Linked DNA regions of Homo sapiens: region 1 is linked to region 2. The links come from fine-mapping of genetic effects on gene expression. Tissue or cell type: tibial nerve. Region 2 holds a variant in brackets; the other region holds the start of a gene. All regions are shown on one strand. Distances are between the middles of the regions.

Region 1 (5,377 bases), 56 kb before region 2:
CACACCCACCCACCCCAAAAATAGATTTTTCATTAAAAAAAAAAAAAAAAAACCACCTTAAGCCGATTACTTCTGTAGGGACTGCAGACATGAGCAATATAGAATATTTGCTAGCAGTTTATAAACTTAATCTGTTTTATACTTGTCTTTTTCTGCTTATTTATTTCCACCTGGAAAGTTGGTCAGGATGGATCACAGGGAAGGAGAAAACTAAAGTAGTAAAAGTAGTTTGATTACATAACTACTGAACATCACATTATGTATGAGACATCTTATGTATAATATTTAACAAAAAACCCTTCTTATCCCCCAGTCATACCATTTGGGAAACAACCCACCTTAAATTTGTCTCCTACAAAATTTCTGGCAGGGATCTACTGGACAGCCATGACTGTGAAGTAAAACTCTGCTCTCCTTTTGTTTTGTTTTGTTTTGTTTTTGAGACGGAGTTTCGCTCTTGTTCCCCAGGTTGGAGTGCAATGGCACAATCTCAGCTCACTGCAACCTCCGCCTTCTAGGTTCAAGTGATTCTCCTGCCTCAGCCTCCTGAGTAACTAGGATTACAGGCACCCGCCACCACGCCCAGGTAATTTTGTATTTTTAGTAGAGACGGGGTTTCACCATGTTGGCCAGGATGGTCTCGAACTCCTGACCTTAGGTGATCCGCCCACCTCGGCCTCCCAAAGTGCTGGGATTACAAGCATGAGACCACACCTGGCATCCTTTTGTTTTAAACTACATTATTTTATTAATACATCAGGCAACTCTATCCCACAAAACATTTGTAATGCTGGAAGTTATGCTTACTCTTTTAAGTACTTCAGAATATTATATATTCAACTTAATAATGAGATAGTGACAATTCGAAAGGGTTTCACTTCGTATACTATCAGTTCGCTGAGAACTAATAAAAAAGTGTGGTTTTTTGGGTCATCCCAAAAATCAAGTACACTTTGGGAAACAGGGAGTTAAAAATCTTTCGGAAGTTAACTTGGTATAAGAGTATGAAAAGCCTCTGTTGCTCTACTTCTGAGGAAATGCTCTCCTTTTTCCTAATAAAGCTTTCCACAGAAGACAAACTCTGTACACAAAAAACAAGGTAAGTATGGGAAATAATTGCTGCAATTCATTAACTCTCAAAAAAGTTATTCATTTTGACATGTAAGAGAAACTTTATTTATGAATGTGAAATGTGCTTCAAAGTGCTGATCTGTTAAAATTCCATAAAACAAGCTTCAAAATGCAAGTCATTTGTGCCAGCTACGAGTAAATAACTGAAGCAGCATTTCCAGAGAGACTAGGGCAAAGGACAGAACAAACTACAAATCAGCAGAAAAGAAACCAAGCATAGTAGAGTGTTAATAATTCACCATGGTTACTGCTCTTAAAACCAAAGCAACTAAACAACTGTCATCTGTTTACTTTTACGTGTGTTTTCATCATCTCTACACCGTCTGAAGTGTTCAGTGTACATGGATGTGGACAGACAGTCAAAGCCTACAGGAGCTTTTTTTTTCTATTAGAACAGTCATTTTAATGCATAGATTTGATGTGGTTATTTTGCTTTCTCTATCTCTGCATTATAAGCTCTTAAAGGAAGAACATTCAGTGGGTTTATTAAATATTAGGAAGCATTCATATTTTATTTTTCCACCATGTATTTGGTTTGTATGCATGTTTGTTTCCTGAGCACACTGTAATGGCTGTTTATGTGAATTCTGAAAGAGCAAAACTAGAACTGTGAAGAAGACCAAAAATAACAGAGAGGCACCCTATTGTCCTGTGAAAAACACTAGACTTGGGATGAGAAACATGGGTCTCAGGCCTAGGTTCTCCTACATCCCTGCAGAACCTTAACTGAGTTACTTAACCTCTCTTTCGTTTACCCCTGCAGTGGGGATGTCAACACCTAACCCACCCTATCGTATAAAATTAATGTATGAATAAACTGAGTGAAAGGACATTATAAATTAAACTCTGCAATTGTAATAAATTACTCTTATTGTACCCTCTATCAAACAACCTGGCGTTACTAGTACATGGTATTCCCAGTACTTGAACATATGTGACTTTCTGGGTGACTGAGCATGAAATCAAATCAGATTTGGCTCAGAGTCATTTCTCCAAAGGGATGTAATCATCTTAGTATTCTGGAAAATTTCCCCTAATAAGACCCCTTTTTGAGTAACACAGTCCAGTGGAGAGTCCCCGCTGACAGTGAATAAGGCTGTGTCTATGTAAGTTCACATGATGTGGTTAGCACATGCAGTGTGTCCCAAGACATTTTCAGGCATCACAAAAACTTGAAAAGTACTAACAGTTGTCTTTCCTTTGGTATTTAGGCAAAAAATGAGGAAGATTCATAAGTAAGTTAACACAGAATTACCAAAAACCTCATGAGAAAGAAATGAAGGGATGTTTCAGGGTAGCTTTTCGAGTCCCAAGTGATCATTGATTTGGCCCTTCTGTTTCTGATTGTGAAAAAGCATTCTGAAAGAATGGGCGCCGGTTCAAGAGGAGGTCTCTGAGGGTCAGCCTTTGGCTGTTTATAGAGGTGAGATTCAAATGCCCTCAGATCATGAAAAGTGCTTGAACTCATTTCAGAGAAGAAATGTTTTGAAATGCCCGTGGAAATACTGAGTGGGCCACTTTTTTATTTTGTGAAATTAGAAACGTATAAACTATTTTTATTATTACAGATAATTGTGAAAGCCTCACTGGATGACATCCTAGCTGAGGAAAAGAATGGAATTTTTGTATTAGTATGAAATGCTAATTTATTACTGTATTTAGATCTACTGACCATCTGAGGGAGTTAGAAGTTAAAGTAAACAGCTGTATCTCTAGTTGATCTTTGCATATTTTAATCCAAATATGGCAAAGGGCAGGGCTAAAGAAGGGAGTGTCCATAAACGGGGCTCAGAACTTGTAACAGAAAATTAAAATATACTCCACTCAAGGGAATTCTGTACTTTGCCCTTTGGGTAAAGTCTCATTTACATTTCTAAACCTTTCTTAAGAAAATCGAATTTCCTTTGATCTCTCTTCTGAATTGCAGAAATCAGATAAAAACTACTTGGTGAAATGACTTCTTGTCACATTGCTGAAGAACATATACAAAAGGTTGCTATCTTTGGAGGAACCCATGGGAATGAGCTAACCGGAGTATTTCTGGTTAAGCATTGGCTAGAGAATGGCGCTGAGATTCAGAGAACAGGGCTGGAGGTAAAACCATTTATTACTAACCCCAGAGCAGTGAAGAAGTGTACCAGATATATTGACTGTGACCTGAATCGCATTTTTGACCTTGAAAATCTTGGGTAAGACTATGCTTTGTATTGTATATGTATGTATGTTGTGTGAAAAGTGGTAGGTGTGTGAAAGAGAACACATATATGTATATGCAGATGATAATTCATGTCCGTACATGCAGTCGTATGTTGAATAAGATCACTTTCACTTTTAATTATACTGCATTGTGAATTGCACAATTATCTAAACTGGGCATTCACATGCTCTTTTATAAACCTTCTTAAGCACCAGATTATTAAGTTTTCTTTTCAAATGTATACAGACTGAGACAATAAATAGAAAAGGGTTTTGTTTTAAAATCATACCTTTAAAGAAACAGATTTAATACTCCTTTGCATTGAGTTAGTGTTTGGCCACTATGCTTGCATATAAAATTGTTAGCTTTTTAGGAAATTCACTACGTTTTCAAGCAACTATGCTTACGGTAATGCATAAAGTTCTAGTTCAAAAAATGTAATGTTTCAAGTAATATTTGTTGAATGAAAGCGTGATTAAATATCTTTTGTCAGAAGACATCAGACACTTTGGGAGGCCGAGGCAGGCGGATCACGAGGTCAGGAGATCGAGACCATCCTGGCTAATGCAGTGAAACCCCATCTCTACTAAAAATACAAAAAATTAGCCGGGCGTAGTGGCGGGTGCCTGTAGTCCCAGCTACTTGGGAGGCTGAGGCAGGAGAATGGCGTGAACCCGGGAGGCGGAGCTTGCAGTGAGCCAAGATTGTGCCACTGCACTCCAGCCTGGGAGACAGAGCAAGACTCCGTCTCAAAAAAATAAATAAATAAATAAAAATAAAGACATCAGACCTCCCTGTGATCCGAAGTAGCAGACGTACTTAACTTCCATGGTGGATTGTTGTAGATGGGATACCAGAGATGAGAACTAAAGACACCATCTGAATTTTCAGAGCTTATATTTTGCTGATTTGTAATATATTGCATACAACGTAAGCAGTCATAACATGCTAGGTTAGGTCCTTATTAATTATTTTTGCCTTCGTTTACATCATAATAGCTACCACTGTGGATATAATATGACTCCACATATTTGCTTTTTACCACTTCTTTCTTTCTTTCTCTTTTTGAGATGGAGTTTCGCTCTTGTTGCCCAGTCTGGAGTGCAATGGTGCAATCTCAGCTCACTGCAGCCTCCACCTCCGGGTTAAAGTGATTCTCCTGCCTCAACCTCCCGAGTAGCTGGGATTACAGGCACTTGCCACCATGTCCGGGTAATTTTTTGTATTTTTAGTAGAGACGGGGTTTCTCCATGTTGGCCAGGCTGGTCTCAAACTCCTGGCCTCAGGTGATCTGCCTGCCTCAGCCTCCCAAAGTGCTGGGATTATAGGCATGAGCCACCGCGCTGGGCCGCTTTTTTTCTTTTACTAAAAAATATTCTGAAACATCTGTTTTTCTCAGGAAACTGTGCCAGGTACTGGGGGAGTACACAGCTCTATACAACTTGGTTTCTACCCCTCAAGGAGTTGGTAGACTACTAGCTAAGATATAAGATACATGGCCGGGCACAGTGGCTCACACCTGTAATCCCAACACTTTGGGAGGCTGAGGCAGGCAGATCATGAGGTCAGGAGATCAAGACCATCCTGGCTAACACGGTAAAACCCCGTCTCTACTAAAAAAAATACAAAAAATTAGCCGGGCATGGTGGCGGGCACCTGTAGTCCCAGCTATTCGGGAGACTGAGGCAGGAGAATGGCGTGAACCTGGGAGGCGGAGCTTGCAGTGAGCAGAGATGGTGCCACTGCACTCCAGCCTGGGTGACAGAGCGAGACTCCGTCTCAAAAAAAAAAATATATATATATATAAGATATGCACAGGCACAACTAGCCACTGTTCTATGTGCTTGTTTTCTGATCAACTCTAATTTGAGTTAGATCACTCCTTAGGTTTAGTCTCAACACAGATCAAAACATGGACACTACTCTTAATAGAAACATGCCTCACTTTATGGAATAGATGTTTTTCAGGGCAATTATACTGCAGTCATCCTGTTTGTATCAAATCATATTTTTACTAGCATAAATTTTAATTTGAGAAATGCTTTATCT
Region 2 (5,377 bases):
AGCTCTGACGGCCCCATTTTCCCCCTCCAAGGGGCCCACGTACCTCCTCCTCCCGGGGGCGGTAGTACGAGACGAGGGTCAGGGTGATGTTGTAGAAGAAATAAAAGCAGAAGGACAGAAAGAACATGTGCTTGGCAAACTTCTTCCACTTCATATGCAGCAGCGTGTGCAGCGGCTCCAGGGTCAGCATCTCATGCCGGTTCTAGGGGTAGAATGCCACCAGTCACCATGGAGATGAGGGAGAGAGGGAGGGACCGTTTTCTAAAGGCCTGCGGGAGCTCTGAGTCAGTGCTGCAGAAGGGGCCCATCATTATGCCCGATGGACTGGTCTGGTTGGAAATGCTGGGAGGGTGATTTCCGGCTCCTGAGGCTCCTCCCCAGGGTACTAGGGCAGCAGTCAGAGGCCGCAGGAGCCCGGGCTTGCAGCAGGAGGACCCGATGCACAGCAGAAAGTGGAGGATAGAAGCGGGCAGGAGGTGGTGGCAGGGGTTCCAGCCCCAGTTTGCTCCTCCTTTGCTGTGTGACTTTAGGACAGACCCTGACCCTCTCTGGGCCTCAGACTCCTCACCTATAAAACTGCTAACAATCCCTGCCCTACCAACCAGGCTGCTGTGAGGGTCTGGGAAGACCCAAGGCAAGGGGACTCTGGGAAGCATGACTCTTAGTAAAGTATGAAGGAGGAAGACCCAGCCTGCTGCCTCACTGCCCCCAAGAGCTGAACACCTCTCATAGCTGCTCCTCTCTTCACCTCCAGTTGCACCGAACTCTCCCCTCTAGCCTCCTCCAGGAAGGCCCCCCGATTGCTCCTCAGTGCACTCTCTGACCCTCATTTGGGACCAGGTTTTGGGGAAGAAAGAATTCTAAGCCTGGCCGTATACACCAACGGGGGGTGGGAGAGAAACAATATGGAAAGGATCAACCCCAATCACCCCATCACCCACACCCACACCCAAACAGCCCTGGATACTCGGTCCAGAAGACCTCCCGCCCACCGCCCCCGCCACCACCACTCAGGTCTACAGTCCAAGGTCAATCAGGAAGAGTCGGGCCCAGCATCTGTCCCAGGCCTCGCCTTTTCTGTGCCTGACTCTGCTCACTGAGGCAACAGAGTGGGGTATGCAGATGCCGAGGGATGGAGCTGGCAGCACTGGGTCTTCCCAGCGTCCTCTCAGCCCCTGGCCTGAGGTCCAGCCCTCTTCTCCCTGCCCTTCCCCGCCTGTGCAGGAGACCCACGTCGATGTTGGTGTTGTAGACAGTGATTTCCAGCACTGAGTTGTCCGTGGTGGTGTCCACGTTGGTGAGGTCGTAGAGGGAGGATGACACGGGTCCGTACGCCCAGTCGGTGAACTTCCTGGACAGGCTCCGGAGCCGCTTCTCCTTGATCTCACGACTGAGGATGTACTTCAGGATCTGGGACAGGAGGAGGAACAACCATCAGCTGCAGAACAGGGGCTTAAGGCCAACAGGGCTGGACCAGCCAGAGGCTGGCTGGGCCCAGGGGATACACCCGCCCAGAATGGGTGGAGACCTGCCTCTGCGCCTGGCGCCATGGCCCCTGGGCCCCGTCTTTATCTGTGGAATGCGCACAAAGCTTGCTGTTCCGCCCATCTCACTGGGGGTTGTGAATACCAGGGACAAAGGGTGTGAAGGTTCTTCGCAGGCTGCAGCAAGCTGCACAATCAGCTTGAAATGCCTCACGCCAGCTGGGGACCCGGTTCGGTGAAAAATCCAGGCACTGATGATTTTTTAGAAACAGTTTCCATTTGCTCTGGACTTGAGAAGAAGCCAGAAGTGTTCTCAGCGTCCCCAGCCCACCCTAAGCCAAGACTCCTCCAGCTGTGGCTCACCACTCTGGCCAGGCAGGTGGTGACGAGAGACACCACGCCCTACAGGGAGGCCCGTGGGACTTCGGTAGGCCAGTGATCCTCAAACTCTGCTGCATGTTAGGGCTGCTGGGAAACTTAGAAATTCCCACAGCATGGCCAGGTGCAGTAGCTCACGCCTGTAATCCCAGCACTTTGGGAGGCCGAGGCGGGTGGATCATTTGAGGTCAGGAGTTCGAGACCAGCCTGGCCAACATGGTGGAATCCTGTCTCTACTAAAAATACAAAAATTAGCTGGGTGTGGTGGCAGGCGCCTGTAACCCCAGCTACTCAGGAGGCTGAGGCAGGAGAGTCGCTTGAACCTGGGAGGTGGAGGTTGCCGTGAGCCATGATTGCGCCACTGCACTCCAGCCTGGGCAATGAAGTGAGACTCTAGTCTCAAAAAAAACAAAACAAAACAAACAAACAAAAAAACCAAAAATTCCCACAGCATCAACTGATGAAATCGAAATATCCAGGGTGGGACCCAGGAGTCTGTATTTGTGAAGCTTCCTGGTTGGCTCCAAAGTGCAGGCTGGACACAGAGCTGCTGTCTCTGGCTTCCTACTTCCAAAAAGCTGAGCCCTGGGTTACCCCAGGATGAGACATGGACTTCCTAGGACACCAACTCAAGACCCAAGAGGAAGGGACTGTTGGGAAGGACAGTGTCAGAGACCTGGCCTCACAAGACCCACTGGGTTCCCATCCCATCTGTCATGAGAGCCCAGGCAGAGAGCTTCTAGGGATAAGGCCAGGTCTCTCCGCCCCGCACCCCAGCCTATAAAAGCCCCAGGACGGTGGCCAAGCTGGGCAGCATCCAGAAAAGTTTTCTGGAGGACACGGAACAGAGGAGGGAAGCGGGAGACAGGTGCCTCCCCCGGGCCGGCCACAGCGGGCACACTGTCCCCTAGAAAACAAGGGGGTCCTGGGACCATGCTCCATGCAGGAAGCCTCCTCCCTGGGCTGGGGTGGCAGGGACAGCACCCGCCACAGTGGCACACAGGGAAGACGGCCTTGGAGAAGGCTCCTTCTGCAACCACAAGCTGACTCTTCAAAGCCCCAGCAAGCTGTGACCCTGAGGGTAGGCAGGAGCTGCGGGGAGGCAGACACAC[A/G]ATTCCTCCTCTGTTGAAGCCGTTCTCCATCTCCTCCTCCCCCACGGGAGAATCAAAAGGCCCCTTGTGGGTCCCAGCCCTGACCACTTGGGACAGGACCAAGGCCCTCGGGGCAGCTGACCAGGGAGGCGGGTACCCTGAGGCTGGCACAGCTGCGATTACTCAACAGTCACCACCCCCCAGTGTCCTCTGATGGCGTCCCAGGAGCCACAGCCTCCTCGCAGAGCGTAGAGACAGTGAGGCTGAGGAACACGCTTGGACCCCAGAATCAGTCCCCTGAGAAGAACATCTCAGACCAAGCCATGACACCGGCCCCTGAAAGAGATCTGAGCCCAGCCCTGCTCAAGTCTTCACCAAGGCTCCCAGCCAAGCCTCGATTTCTCAGCCACATCACACAAGGCAAGAAGGGCCCAAAGCGGCCACACTCTTGGCTGGGGACCTGGCACAGAGTTCCAACCGCACAAACAGGCTGGGGTCTCCCCATAATTGGGAAATGGCAGCATATTAGCGCTGCGCCCGCAGCAGCCATTCTGGAACTCCCGTCCTCGTGAGAGGCAGAAGGCCCCAAGGGCCACCCACTGCTGGGGCTATTGTGTCACCTCAGCCTCAGGCTCCCCCAGCCTAGCCCTCCCAGGACAAGAGATGGAAACGCGGCGTATTAGGGACTGAAGTCTAGAGAGTGGGCTGCATCGCACCAGCTCCGCGTGGCCCCTCAGAACAAACCTGCCTCCGGCCGCCACGCCACTGCAGTTCTGGACCCAAGGCTGGGACCTTCTCAAGGCTGAGGCTGTGGTTTGTGAATCCCCAGTAAGGCCCCCGGGGCTGAGAGGGTGGCAGCTGTACCTCCTGACCTCCCGACCTCCTGCCTCCCCACGCCCCATGGCCCCACCTCCGCCTTGCCCATCTTGGCGGCCAGCTGCAGCGGCGTGAGGCCATCGTTGTTGCGAGTGGTCTCCAGCTCCCAGTTGCCACTCCGCAGTAGGATCATGTCGTACATGCGCTTCACAAAGTCATTCTGCGTCTTGAAGTCCTCGGCCACGGTCACCAGGGCGTGAAGGATGTTGTTGCCTCGTGAGTCCCGCGAGGTGATGTCCGTCTGCTCGTGCTCCATCAGCAGCTGCACAATCTCGGGCTGGTTGGTGCATGCTGCCAGGGCCAGGGGCGTCTCACCTGGGGGATGAGCGCACTGAAGCTTGGTTCTCTCATGGGCCGGAAGCAGCGTCCCCCAAGCCCCAGGACTGGGGCCCATATCCTATCTCAGCAGGATGGGCACCTCAGGTTCCCTAGCCCTCTCCCCATCTTCCGCTTCTACGGGGAAGAGTGAAGCTAGATCACTGCGGTAGCCTCCTAACTGGCCTCCCTGCCTCCACCCTGGCCCTTTAATACTCTGCTCAGCACAGCAGCCAGACCAACCTGTTAGTGCCTCCCCCAGAATGAAAGCACAGGTTCCAATGACAGCCCACAAAGCCCTGCATACTCTGACCTCCTCTCTCCATCACTCACTCCCTCCTGCTACAACGGCCTTTTTCCACCTCCTCCAACACGCCGCCTGGGGGCCTTCGCTCGGCTGTCCCCTCTGCCTGTAGATAGCCCAGTCACTTTCTCCCTCACCTCCTTCAAGTCCTTGCTCAAATGTCACCTTTCAGTGAGCCACCCTAACCACTCTATTTAAAATTAAAATCCACCCTCCTCTTGTCCCAGACAGAACTCTTGGTTCCTTGTCCTCTGCTTTACTTTTTTTTTTTTTTTTGAGATGGAGTCCTACTCTGTCGCCAGGCTGGAGTGCAGTGGTGCGATCTCGCCTCACTGCAACCTCTGCCTCCCGGGTTCAAGCTATTCTCCTGCCTCAGCCTCCTGAGTAGCTGGGACTACAGGCGCCCGCCACCACGCCCGGCTAATTTTTGTATTTTTAGTAGTGATGGGGTTTCCCCATGTTGGCCAGGATGGTCTTGAACTCCTGACCTCGTGATCCACCTGCCTTGGCCTCCCAAAGTGCTGGGATTACAGATGTGAGTCACTGCACTCGGTCTACTTTGTATTTTTTAAGAGCACTTATCATTTCATATCATAGTATATAAAATTCTTATTTATAGTGCTTATTACCGATGGTCTCTCCCTGTCTAGAATGTAAGTTCCATGAGGGCAAGGATCTCTATTTTGTTCACTGATACATTTCAAGTACCTAGAACAGTGCCTGATGTAGACAGTAAGTGCTCAATAAATGCTTGTTAAGAAAAAATAAGGCAAGTGACTCACATGAGGTCACACAGCAAGCCTGGGACACGACCAGCTCCGGACACCAGGTCTTCAGCTGCCTCCCCTCTCCTCGCCCCACCCAACAAATGCTTCCCAACACCAGGTCCAACCAGCTCCTATGCAGGGCAATGGGGACACACGATGAAC

Alleles and levels. Alleles are on the strand shown, and positions count from the first base shown. SD is a standard deviation of normalised expression in the study named.
In carriers of allele G in region 2, the expression in tibial nerve of the gene that starts at base 2,922 in region 1 tends to be lower than with A alone (moderate effect, 0.58 SD a copy in GTEx).

The links. PIP is the estimated chance that this variant, and not a neighbour inherited with it, causes the effect.
Region 1: ASPA starts here. The variant in region 2 is fine-mapped to the expression of ASPA in tibial nerve (GTEx, PIP 0.97). The same link has a PIP of 0.9 or more in caudate.

What each region holds. Positions count from the first base shown.
Region 1 is chr17:3,473,076-3,478,452 of GRCh38, forward strand. ASPA (aspartoacylase) reads left to right here and starts at 2,922. Exons shown (of 6, transcript NM_000049.4): 1 at 2,922-3,320. The coding sequence starts at 3,085. It also overlaps a transcript of SPATA22 not described here.
Region 2 is chr17:3,528,794-3,534,170 of GRCh38, forward strand. It overlaps TRPV3 (transient receptor potential cation channel subfamily V member 3), which reads right to left. Exons shown (of 18, transcript NM_145068.4): 8 at 3,864-4,144; 9 at 1,234-1,410; 10 at 44-202. Among named protein-coding and RNA genes, the nearest start is that of TRPV3, 26 kb to the right of the region's middle. The variant A/G (reference allele first, on the strand shown) is at 2,975.